Homo sapiens: one gene and its partners. The protein of the gene in region 1 purifies or fractionates together with the protein of each later gene. This does not show direct contact. Each region holds a gene or a part of one and is shown on either strand. Other genes may lie near its edges. The genes, in order: SLC41A3, LETM1 and ABCF1.

Region 1 (3,651 bases):
TTCAGGAATGCAAAGTTGGTTCAATATATGAAAATCAATGTAATACACCAAATTAATAGAATAATGGGGAGAAAACATAGCTCAACAGACACAGAAAAAGCATTTGGCAACAACTAACACTCTTTCACGATAAAAACACTTTAAAAAGTTAGCTTTGGGTTTCTCATAGATGCCCTTAGTCAGGATGAGGACATTCCCTTCTATTCCTAGACATTAAGACAAGAATTCTTACCACAGACAAAGAAGGATATTTGATAATGATAAGAGGAATAGAAGGGAATGTTCTCATCCTGATTAAGGGCATCTGTGAGAAACCCAAAGCTAACAAACTTAGCGAGAGTCTGAAAGTTTTCCCACTAAGATTAGGAACAAGACAAGAATCCCTGTTTTTGCCAATTCTATTAAACACTGTACCTGAGGTTCTAGCCAGCACAATTCAGCAAGGAAAAGAAATGAGACGTATCCAGCTTGAAAAGGAAGAAGTAAAATTATCCCTGTTTACAGACGACATAATCTTATACGTAAAAAATCATAAGGGATCCACATACACACAAACTATTACAGCCAGTAAACAAGTTCAGCAAGGTGTAGGACTGGAGGACGCAGGTCAATACACGAAAGTCAGTTTTTTTGTTTTGTTGTTGTTTGGGTTTTTGGGTTGTTTGGTTGTTGTTTTTTTTTTGTTGTTTTGAGACAGGCTCTCACTCTGTCACCTAGGCAGGAGTGCAGTGGCACGATCATAGCTCACTGCACCCTCAACTTCCTAGGCTCAAGTAATCCTCCCACCTCAGCTTCCTGCGTAGCTGGGGCTACAGGTATATTCCACCATGCTCAGCTACTATTTTATTTTTTGTAGACAGGGTCTTGCTATGTTGCCCAGGCTGGTCTCAAACTCCTGAGCTCAGGTGATCCTCCCACCTCAGCCTCCTGAGCAGCTGGGACTACAGGCATATTCCACCATGCTTGGCTAGTATTTTATTTTTTGTAGACAGGGTCTTGCTATGTTGCCCAGGCTGGTCTCAAACTCCTGAGCTCAGGTGATCCTCCCACCTCAGCCTCCTGAGCAGCTGGGACTGCAGGTATATGCTATCATGCTTGGCTATAGTTTTTTATTTTTTGTAGAAATGAGGTCTTGCTATGTTGCCCAGGCTGGTCTCAAATTCCTGGGCTCAACTGATCCTCCTGCCTCAGCCTCCCAAAGTGCTAGGATTACAGCTGTGAGCCACTGTATCCGGCCAGTTTTATTTTTATACACTAATAATGAATAATCTAAAAGTAAATAAATAAAACAATTGCATTTGCAATAGAAATGCAAGAAATGAAGAAAACTTCAGAACAAATTTAACAAAAGAAGTCCAAAACTTGTACCCTGAAAACTATAAAACATTGATCTCCAGGTTTAATACAATCCCTATTCAAATTCCAGTGGTCTTTTTTTTTTCTTTCTCCCTCCCTCCCTCCCTTCCTTCTTTCTTTCTTTCTGGAGAAAATGACAAGCTGATTCTAAAATGCAAATGGAAATGCAAGGGAACAGAAAATCCTGAAAAAAAAGAATGAAGTTGGAGAACACAGACTTCCTAATTTCAAAACTTATTGTAAAACTTGGTATTGGCAAAGAATAGAAATATAGATTAACAGAACAGAACTGAGAGTCTATAAATAAATTCATGCATCTATGGCCAATGGATTTCTGACAAAGGTATAAAAACCATTGGATGGGGAAAGAGTAGTGTCTTCAATAAACGGGGCTGGGACAACTGAATAATCACATGCAAAAGAATGAATTTGAACCCCTACCTCAAACCACATACAAAAACTAACTCAAAATGGCTTAAAGAGTTAAACATAAGAGCTAAAACTACCTAAAACACTTAGAATGAAATACAGGTGTAAATCCCAGGGACTTTGGATTAGGCAACAGTTTCTTAGATGTGATATCTGAAGTACAAGCAACCAAAGAAAAAACTGACAAATTGGATTTCATCAAAATTTGAAAGTTGTGTTTCAAAGAACACTCTCAAGAAAGTAAAGACGATCCACAAAATGTGCAAGTATTTGCCAATCATTATATCTAATGAGGGTTTAGTATCCCAAATATATAAAGAATACTTACAATTCAACAATAAAAAGACAATTTAAATGACAAAGGAATTAAACAGACATTTCTCCAAAGATGTACAATGGCCAATAAGCACATGAAACAATGGTTTCACTTAACATTAAAAGATGCTCAGCTTCATTGTTAGAAAAATGCAAATCAAAACCACAGTAAGATACCACCTAACATAATGTTGTCAAGCTTCATCCATGTTGTTACATGAATCAGTACTTCATTCCTTTTTACAGCTGGGTAATATTCAATTACATGGACATATCATATTTTGCTTACCCACTAATGAGTGACAGACATTTGGGTTATTTCCACTTTGGGGCTATTATAAATAATACTCCTATGACTATTCATGTGCAAGTCTTTGTGTGAATATAAGTTTTCTGTTCTACTGAACTGTACATTTAAAAGGGGTGAATTTTATGGTATGAACTTTATATCACAATAAAAAAATTATGAATCATTTATGAGATAATATTAAAGCAAGCACACTTATACTCCCACTAAGTTCAAGAAGCAAAGCATGACCAGCCTCTCCACTCTGAGCCCCTCTCTGATAACAACTCATTCCTCCCCACCCGAGGTGATACTAGCCTCACTCTGGGGATGACCATTCCTCGATCTGTTTTATTTTTTCTTTAGTTTTACAATGTGTGCAGCCCTAAGTGTTACAGCTGAGTTTGGCCTACTTTGCGATTTAGATCAACAAAGTAACACTCCACGGATTCTTTTCATGTCCAGTTTCTTTCAGTTGACATTAGATTTCTGAGATTCAGCCATGCTGCCGAATCTATTTTATTGCTGTAGAAAACTGAACTGTATGACTGCCCCACAATCTCTTCATCTATTCTACAATCAATAAACCACCTCAGCCTCCTTTCCTTTCCAAAATGAAAATAACTGGATTATTTTTCCAATTACAAAAGTGACATGTGTTAATAAAAAATATAATTTAGACAATACAAAATAATATAACGAGGCTGGGCACGATGCTCATGCCTGTAATACCAGCACTTTGGGAGCTAGAGGCAGGTGGATCACTTGAGGCTAGGAGTTTGAGACCAGCTTGGCCAACATGGTGAGACCTCATCTCTATCAAAAAATACAAAAAATTAGCCAGGTGTGGTGATGCACACCTGTAGTCCCAGTTACTCAGGAGGCTGACGCAGGAGAATCACTTGAACCTGGGAGGCGGAAGCTGCAGTGAGCTGAAATCGCACCACTGCACTCCAGCCTAGGGGACAGAGTAAGACTCTGTCTCAAAAATAAATAAATAAATAAATAAAATAACACTTTAAAAATCACTGACAATTTCACTATTCCAAAATAATCAGTGCAAGTCTAGTGTATATCCTTCCAATGTTTACCCACACAGACACAGGCCCACACACTCACTGTTTTTTTTAATCCATGTTCTAGATCCTGGATTTTATTTGATAGAAAGTATACATCTCTGGCCCGTGTTCAGTAAAATGTCTACATGCCTGCTTGTCATCCTTGCTTGTCAATCACAGTTTCAGGTAAGGAATGAGGTGGTAGGC
Region 2 (3,651 bases), on another chromosome or scaffold:
GGTACAGTCACGGCTCCCTGCAGCCTTGAACTCCTGGGCTCAAGGGATCCTTTTGCCTCAGCCTCCCAAGTAGCTGGGACTACAGGTGTGCACCATCAGGCCAGGCTAATTTTTGTAAAGACGGGGTTTCGTTTTGTTGCCTAGGCTGGTCTCCAACTTTTGGCCTCGAGCGACCCTCCTGCATTGGTCTCCCAAAGTGTTGGGATTACAGGCGTGAGCCACCACTCCCAGCCTGAAACCTTCTTTTAAGTCTGAAAGAAGGCGGGGCGCCGTGGCTCACGCCTGTAATCCCAGCACTTTGGGAGGCAAAGGCGAGTGGATCACCTGAGGCCAGGAGTTCAAGACCAGCTTGACCAGCGGTGAAACCTCATCCCTACTAAAAATACAAAATTAGCCGGGTATGGTGGCACATGCTTGTAAACCCAGCTACTTGGGAGGCTGAGTCAGGAGAATAGCTTGAACCTGGGAGGCAAAGGTTGCAGTGAGCTGAGATCGCACCATTGCACTCCAGCCTGGGCAACAAGAGTGAAACTCCGTCTCAAAAAGAAAAAAAAAATCTGAAAGAGTACAGATCTCTTTTGTAGAAACCTCTGTAAGTTTCTGGAAGCCAGTTCTGAGTGTTGGAAGGTTTCAGAGCACTGCTAAGTGAAGGGTCTGCCCCAGTTATGAAAACAGTATCTCAAAGTAGTCCTAAAAAAAGATGGGAAGCCTCAAGTAGATCCTGACTCCAGACACCCCAAGAGGGAAGCCAAGCAGGCCAGCCCTAGGGAGGGAGCACTCCTACCGGTGGCACCATCCCCACTCACTTCAGCTGGCTCTGGTGGAAACATGACCTCTATGCAGACAGCCCTATAGAGCAAGCAATGATCCCAAGGGGCAAGAGCTGTAAGAATTACTACAACCGGACCGGGCGCAGTGGCTCACGCCTGTAATCCCAGCACAGACGTGAACCCGGGAGGCGGAGCTTGCAGTGAGCTGAGATCGCACCACTGAACTGCAGCCTGGGCGACAGAGCAAGACTCTGTCTCAGAAAAAAAAAAAAAAAAAAAAAGAATTACTAGAACCACAGGCCGGGCATGGTGGCTCACGCCTGTAATCCCAGCACTTTGGGAGGCTGAGGCGGGTGGATCACCTGAGGTCAGGAGTTCAAGACCAGCCTGGCCCACATGGTGAAACCCCATCTCCACAAAAATAAAAAAAAATTAGCCGGACATGATGGCAGGTGCCTGTAATCCCAGCTACTCGGGAGGCTGAGGCAGGATAATCACCTGAACCCTCCGGGAGGCAGAGGTTGCAGTGAGCTGAGATCGCGCCATTGCACTCAAAAAAAAAAAAAAAAAGAGAAGAACCACAAAAACACCAAGAGTAAGCCATTTCTTGTATAAACAACAGTGATAAGTGTACAGCACATTTTTAGGATTTCAACATGTTTTTGATGCTTTCCCTAACTTGCTCTAGTTCCTATAAGCATAAAGTCAGAGTTCATTCGTATTACTGACATTCAGAGCCCATTGTGATCAAACTTCATGCTGGGAACAAGACAGGAATAGGAGCAGCAGGGCCAGAGGCACCAGCCCACGGAGGTGCCAGGCCAGGCTGTGCAGAGGCTAGGCGGTGCCGGGAGCCAGCAGGTAGCACCCTGAGATGCCCAGTGACCTTGAACCTCCAAGCAGTGGGGTTGCAATGAGTCAACAGCCAGGGAGCAGCAAGTGCAGCTTTAAGATGGGGGGAGCTCACTCCAGCCGGCAACGAGAGCCACCGTGAGAGGACGAACAAGATGGGGAGGGCAGGCACTGACCCTGCTCCTAGTGGACCGATACGTCACTTCACCTCATTTAACAGGAGGCAACTCTCCTGGTTCTGTGGGGAAGGAAATTCCTACTACGTGCCACATTTAGGGCTTGTAACAGTCCGGTCTGTGAACTGGGAGCTGGGTTAAGGGGAAAATGTTGGCTATGTTCTCATACACAGCAAGTTACATTTTAAGTTAAAATTCAAAGCACAGCACACGTGAGCATGCCAAGGCCCTTCTCACTCCAGCTGAGACTAGCTTTGGCCCCCACCTTTCTCCACATGAAGAGGGCCCAGCGCATTCTCCGCTATCCTCCCCACACCATGGCACCTTCAGCCCCTCCACCCCTGCCCCGGCCAGCTCCTGTGCCTCAAGGGCTCCGCCCGGCAAGCAGGCAGGCTGGCAGGTCTCCCAGAGTTCCCTGATCTGTCCCCCAGTGACCCTACCTTCTCTCTAACACTGCCTGTCCCACTGGCTCCCTTACTAGGCTCTCCCCAAAACCTGTTCTGACGGCTTCTGTCCCCAGCTCTCCAAGGAACCCCCAGTCAAGGCCGTTCGGGGTGATGGGGATCATTGCTCCACGTCCCTCACGAGCACAGGTGTCATCTGTGCCCAGGCCCTGCTGGGAGCCCTTCTGTTCTTTTTTCCAACACCAACGAATTCTCCAACTGGGAGTCCAACAATTTAATTCCATACTGACACTACCCAGAGTTAGTGCAGACCTCACAGGGTACGGGCTCAGTCCCACAAGACTGCCCCCACTCCATGTGCCCAGGCTTACCCAACTTCAGCTGACCACACATTTGAGGGTTCCCATGACCGCCTTGGTTTTGATCATTCACAAGAATGACTCAGATGTCAGCAATGGGCTCTACTTACTGTCACAGTTTATTATAAAGGGTACCTGGTACCTAGGAACAACCAGACAGCATGGCCAGGGAGGTCCCGAGCACAGGATCCTTTGTCCTGTGGAGCTAGGTGGACGCCAGTGGGAAGCCTCACCAGCCTCCTCACCCAGAAGTTCTCATCAAGGCTTCATGACTGATTACAGTATTGGCCCACTGGCCATGGGGACTGAACTAAATCTCCAAACCCTCTCGCCTCCCTGGAAGGGGCAGGAAGTTCCCACCCTCTAATCACAGCATGGCCAGCACCTCAATCTATCTAAGGGCCTGCCTGGAGTCACCTCATCAGCATAAACTCAGGTGCAGTGATAACGAATAACAGAAGACACTCCCAAACTCACGCCTGTAATCCTAGCACTTTGGGAGGCCAAGGCAGGTGGATCGCTGTTGAGCTCAGGAGTTAAGCCTGAGCAACAGAGACCCTGTCTACAAAAATGTTAAAACATCAGCTGGCAGGAGGATCGCTTGGAGGCTGTGGTGAGCCATGATCAAGCTACTGCACTCCAGCCTGGGTGACAGAGCAAGACCCTGTCTCAAAATACAAACAAATGAAAAAAGACACTCCCATCATTCAGGAAACTTCCAGGGTTCTCAGCCCTCAGTGCTGGTGCCAGGATCAGGTCAAAGAACAAACAAACCTTTCTTCACCTGGCTTCACCCTTGCCACTCCTGGGAGAGCCTCCCTACCTGACCTCCACCTCCTCCCCAGGCAATCTCTTCCCTGACTTGAATACACACGCCCCACAGGTCTGATGGGCACGGCACAGTCCACACCTCCAAGAACTCTCAACTAGCGCCCCTCCTCATTCTGCTCCTCCCCAAGTCCTCCCCAGTTTCAACAAATGGCACTGTTGTCCCCAGGCGGCTCAGGCCAGAGGCCACCTCTCCCACACAGCCCTCACTGTTGTCCCCAGGCGGCTCAGGCCAGAGGCCCCCTCTCCCACACAGCCCTTG
Region 3 (3,651 bases), on another chromosome or scaffold:
CAGGCCCCTGCTGTATTTCTGCCTCACAGAGGGTTCCCCATCAGCTGAATGGAGCAACATGGGCTGGAAAGGGGTTGGTGGAACCCAGATGCCTCCCAGGATTGGTGGGCCCTGTGGCACTTGTACCTGCTGTTGCTGTTGCTGCTGCTGCTGCTCCTTCTCCTTGAGCACTTTCTCTTCTTCCCCAGCCTGTTTATCTTCTACTGCCAGCTCTTCAAAGAACTATAAAGGGAGTTAAGCTACAGGTAAACATGTTTCCAAGAGCAATCCAAGCAGGCTGTGCTCTGCCACACATTGGCCCACTGGCCCTCCACTCCACCCTCACCTTACCTCCTGTCTCTCTCTTTTTTTTCTTTTTGTGGAGAATGGAGTGTGCAGGTCTCAAATTCCTGGGCTTAAGCTATCCTCCCACCTCTGCCTCCCTAAGCGCTGGGATTACAGGTGTAAGCCACCGTGCCCTGCCTATCTCCTCTCTTGACAAGATCTTTTCTCCTCCCTTGGACCTCCCACCTCCTTCACATGGCTATTTATTTAGCTTGGAAACATCCATAGTCATTTCTTATCCTCAACCCTCATTTTCTCACCGTTTTTTTGATCTTCTTGTCCTTCTTCCCTTTCTTCACCACTTTGTCTAGAAAGTTAAGCGGACATCGTGAATGCTTATCTGCAAATTCCAAAGCAGTCTGATCCCCCCTGCAAAGATCTCTGTAGCCTCTATCCTATTTTATTATTTTTCTAGCTTAACTATCACTCCTTAAATATTTGTACTGTCTCACAACTCCTGCAGAAATAATCATTCCCATCTCTATTCATTCATCCACTAAGTATCTACTAAACAGCTACCATGTGTCAGATATTGTGCTAGCGTAGGGGATCATAGCAATGAACAAGACAAATGTGGTCTCCTCTGGAGCTTGCAGGCTATAGGAAGAGAGATTTTTAAATAGGTAATTCCAGGTGTACTGAAGGTTCCAAAAGAAAAGGTAAAGCCTACTTGGTGGTGGGGGAGAGGCTGGCTTCATCTCTGGTGGCGGCCTCTCTAAGAAGATGGCATTTAAGCAAATAACTGAAGTAATGAGGAGTATGAGAAGTTAGTCAGACACATGGTGTAATTCCAGTGCTGTGCACAGGCCCAGCTGTGAGAAAGCACACACACTGAGAGACAGGGAAAGGTTTGGTATGGCTAAGCTTACAGACTGAGGGGAGAATGGTGCAAGGTAAGGCTGGAGTGAGGGCCTTGTAGCAAGGTTAAGGAATGGGGACTTTATTGGTATGATCACTTTCACACTTTAAAGTTTCACTCTGGCTTCAGAGTACAGCAAGAATCGGAGGGAATAAGCATAGTGGGAAATCCACTGGGGAGGCTGTCAGAGTAGTCTGGGTGGTGGTGACAAGCGGACATAAAGAAGAATTCATAGGATGGGGCTAGAGGTGGGGAATAAAGAGCACCCGGCCGGGCGCGGTGGCTCATGCCTGTAATCCCGGCACTTTGTGAGGCAGAGGCAGGCGGATCACTTGAGGTCAGGAGTTCAAGACTAGTCTGGTGAACATGGTGAAACCCAGTCTCTACTAAAAATACAAAAAATTAGCCAGGCATAGTGGCGGGCGCCTGTAATCCCAGCTACTCAGGAGGCTAAGACAGGAGAATTGCTTGAACCCAGGAGGCGGAGGTTGCAGTGAGCTGAGATCACGCTATTGTACTGCAGCCTGGGTGACAGAGCAAGACTCTATCTCAAAAAAAAAAAAAAAAAAAAAAAAAAAAAGAGCACTCAGAGATGACTCCTGTGTTTTTAGCTGGCAAAATTAGCTGGGCTAAGTGGTACCATTTATTAATTAAGGAGGCAGTGGAAGAGAAGGTCTTATAGGAAGGAAGAAGATATTATAAATTCAATTTGGGAGATATGTGTAGATACACACACATGTATACAACACACACACACCCTCCTTTTTTTTTTTTTTTTTTTAAGAGACAGGGTCTTGCTCTGTCACCCAGGCTGGAATGCAGTGGCATGATCATAACTCACTGTAACCTTAAATTCCTAGGCTTAGGTGATCCTCCCACTTTAGCCTCCTGAGTAGCTAGGACTACAGGCAAGCGCCACCATGCCTGCCTAATTAAAAAAATAATAATTTTTAGAGAGGAGGTCTCACTATGTTGCTCAGGCTAATCCTGAACCTCTGGCCTCAAGCAATTCTCCTGCCTCAGCTTCCCAAACTGTTGGAATTATAGGCCTGAGCCACTGTGCCTGGCCAGGGGGACACGTTGTTTGTAAAACCTATAGGCCATGTAAATAGAGTTATCTGGTAAGCAAATGAACACCTCAGTCTATGCCTTACTTGTTCTGCTTGAATATTATAGCACAAATCACATTGTGTCATATTTACCTGTCTGTGTGCTTTCATTCTAGAGAGTAACCTGAGAGACTGTTTAGCCTGTGTTCCCAGTAAAGCCAAAACAGATTCAACAGATTCTAGCTCTCCCCCTCTCCATCCTTGTTTCCCTGAAGGTAGAGGACCATGTCCAACTCCCTCCCCTACTGGAGGCAGCCTCATGATTTCCCTTCAGGCTTAGGCCTATTTATTATCTTCTCTTCCAAAACATCCCTTCCATTCACTGCTATCTAATTCTACCCTTAAGCATTTCAGTATTTAATATTAAAAAAAAAAAAATTGGTCGGGTGCGGCGGCTCAGGCCTGTAATCTCAGCACATTGGGAGGCCAAGGTGGGTGGATCACAAGGTCAGGAGATTGAGACCAGCTTGGCCAACATGGTGAAACCCCATCTCTACTAAAAATACAAAAATTAGCTGGGCGTGGCAGAGCACGCATGTAGTCCCAGCTACTTGGGAAGCTGAGGCAGGAGAATCGCTTGTACCTGGGAGGTGGAGGTTGCAGTGAGCCAAGATCGCGCCACTGCACTCCAGCCTGGGTGACACAGCGAGACTGTCTCAAAAAAAAAAAAAAAAAAGAAAAAAAGTCAATGGTATCCGCCATCTACTACATTAAAATATTCTCAGACTAGAATTCCATGTATTTCAAAGTAATCATTTATTCAGGAAAGTTTTATGGTGCATCTACTTCTCCAAAAAACTAGAGTTAACGAGAGACAATTCCAATAATTAAAGGCTTCACAGACTAAAATGGCCCTACCCTATCTTTTCTGTTTCCCTACCCACACCTCTGGTCTCGATACTGGCTTCTTTCTGTTCCTTTATGAAGTCCCAGGCACGCTTATGTCTGTCTTTGCTTAATCTGCATCCTCCATCCAGAACACATTTCAAAGTTTGGGGCCCTCCTCCTCCCCAAAAAACAAACCACAAAAAACAAACAAAAAAGTTAAAGAAAAAAAATCTGAGCCCAGTATTGGGTGACTAGTGTGAGAGTTGAAAAATTGTGCAGGATTAATAATAAAAGGCTTTATATGCTATTCCAAGGAGTTTAATCCTAAAGGCATTAGGAGGAAGGATCTACTGAAGTACCTAAGAAGGAAAAACCTGATCAGCTCACCTTATCAACACAGATGACTGACTCATCCCAGACACTAATTTCTCCCCAAGGACTAACACAGCCATACCATCTCTCCTTCCTTTAAATCTCTTTTGTGGCCAGGCACACTGGCTCACGCCTGTAATCCCAACATTTTGGGGACCA

The links.
Region 2: the proteins of SLC41A3 (region 1) and LETM1 purify together in Homo sapiens (affinity purification with mass spectrometry; one large-scale study listed by BioGRID and IntAct). This does not show direct contact.
Region 3: the proteins of SLC41A3 (region 1) and ABCF1 purify together in Homo sapiens (affinity purification with mass spectrometry; one large-scale study listed by BioGRID and IntAct). This does not show direct contact.

The regions. Positions count from the first base shown.
Region 1 is NC_000003.12:126,074,009-126,077,659, forward strand, and holds part of SLC41A3 (solute carrier family 41 member 3), read right to left. Parts: intron 1-3,651. UniProt on the Homo sapiens protein: Na(+)/Mg(2+) ion exchanger that acts as a predominant Mg(2+) efflux system at the mitochondrial inner membrane.
Region 2 is NC_000004.12:1,849,615-1,853,265, forward strand, and holds part of LETM1 (mitochondrial proton/calcium exchanger protein precursor), read right to left. Parts: intron 1-3,651. UniProt on the Homo sapiens protein: Plays an important role in maintenance of mitochondrial morphology and in mediating either calcium or potassium/proton antiport. Mediates proton-dependent calcium efflux from mitochondrion.
Region 3 is NC_000006.12:30,574,389-30,578,039, reverse strand, and holds part of ABCF1 (ATP-binding cassette sub-family F member 1), read right to left. Parts: intron 632-3,651; coding exon 585-631; intron 223-584; coding exon 127-222; intron 1-126. UniProt on the Homo sapiens protein: Isoform 2 is required for efficient Cap- and IRES-mediated mRNA translation initiation. Isoform 2 is not involved in the ribosome biogenesis.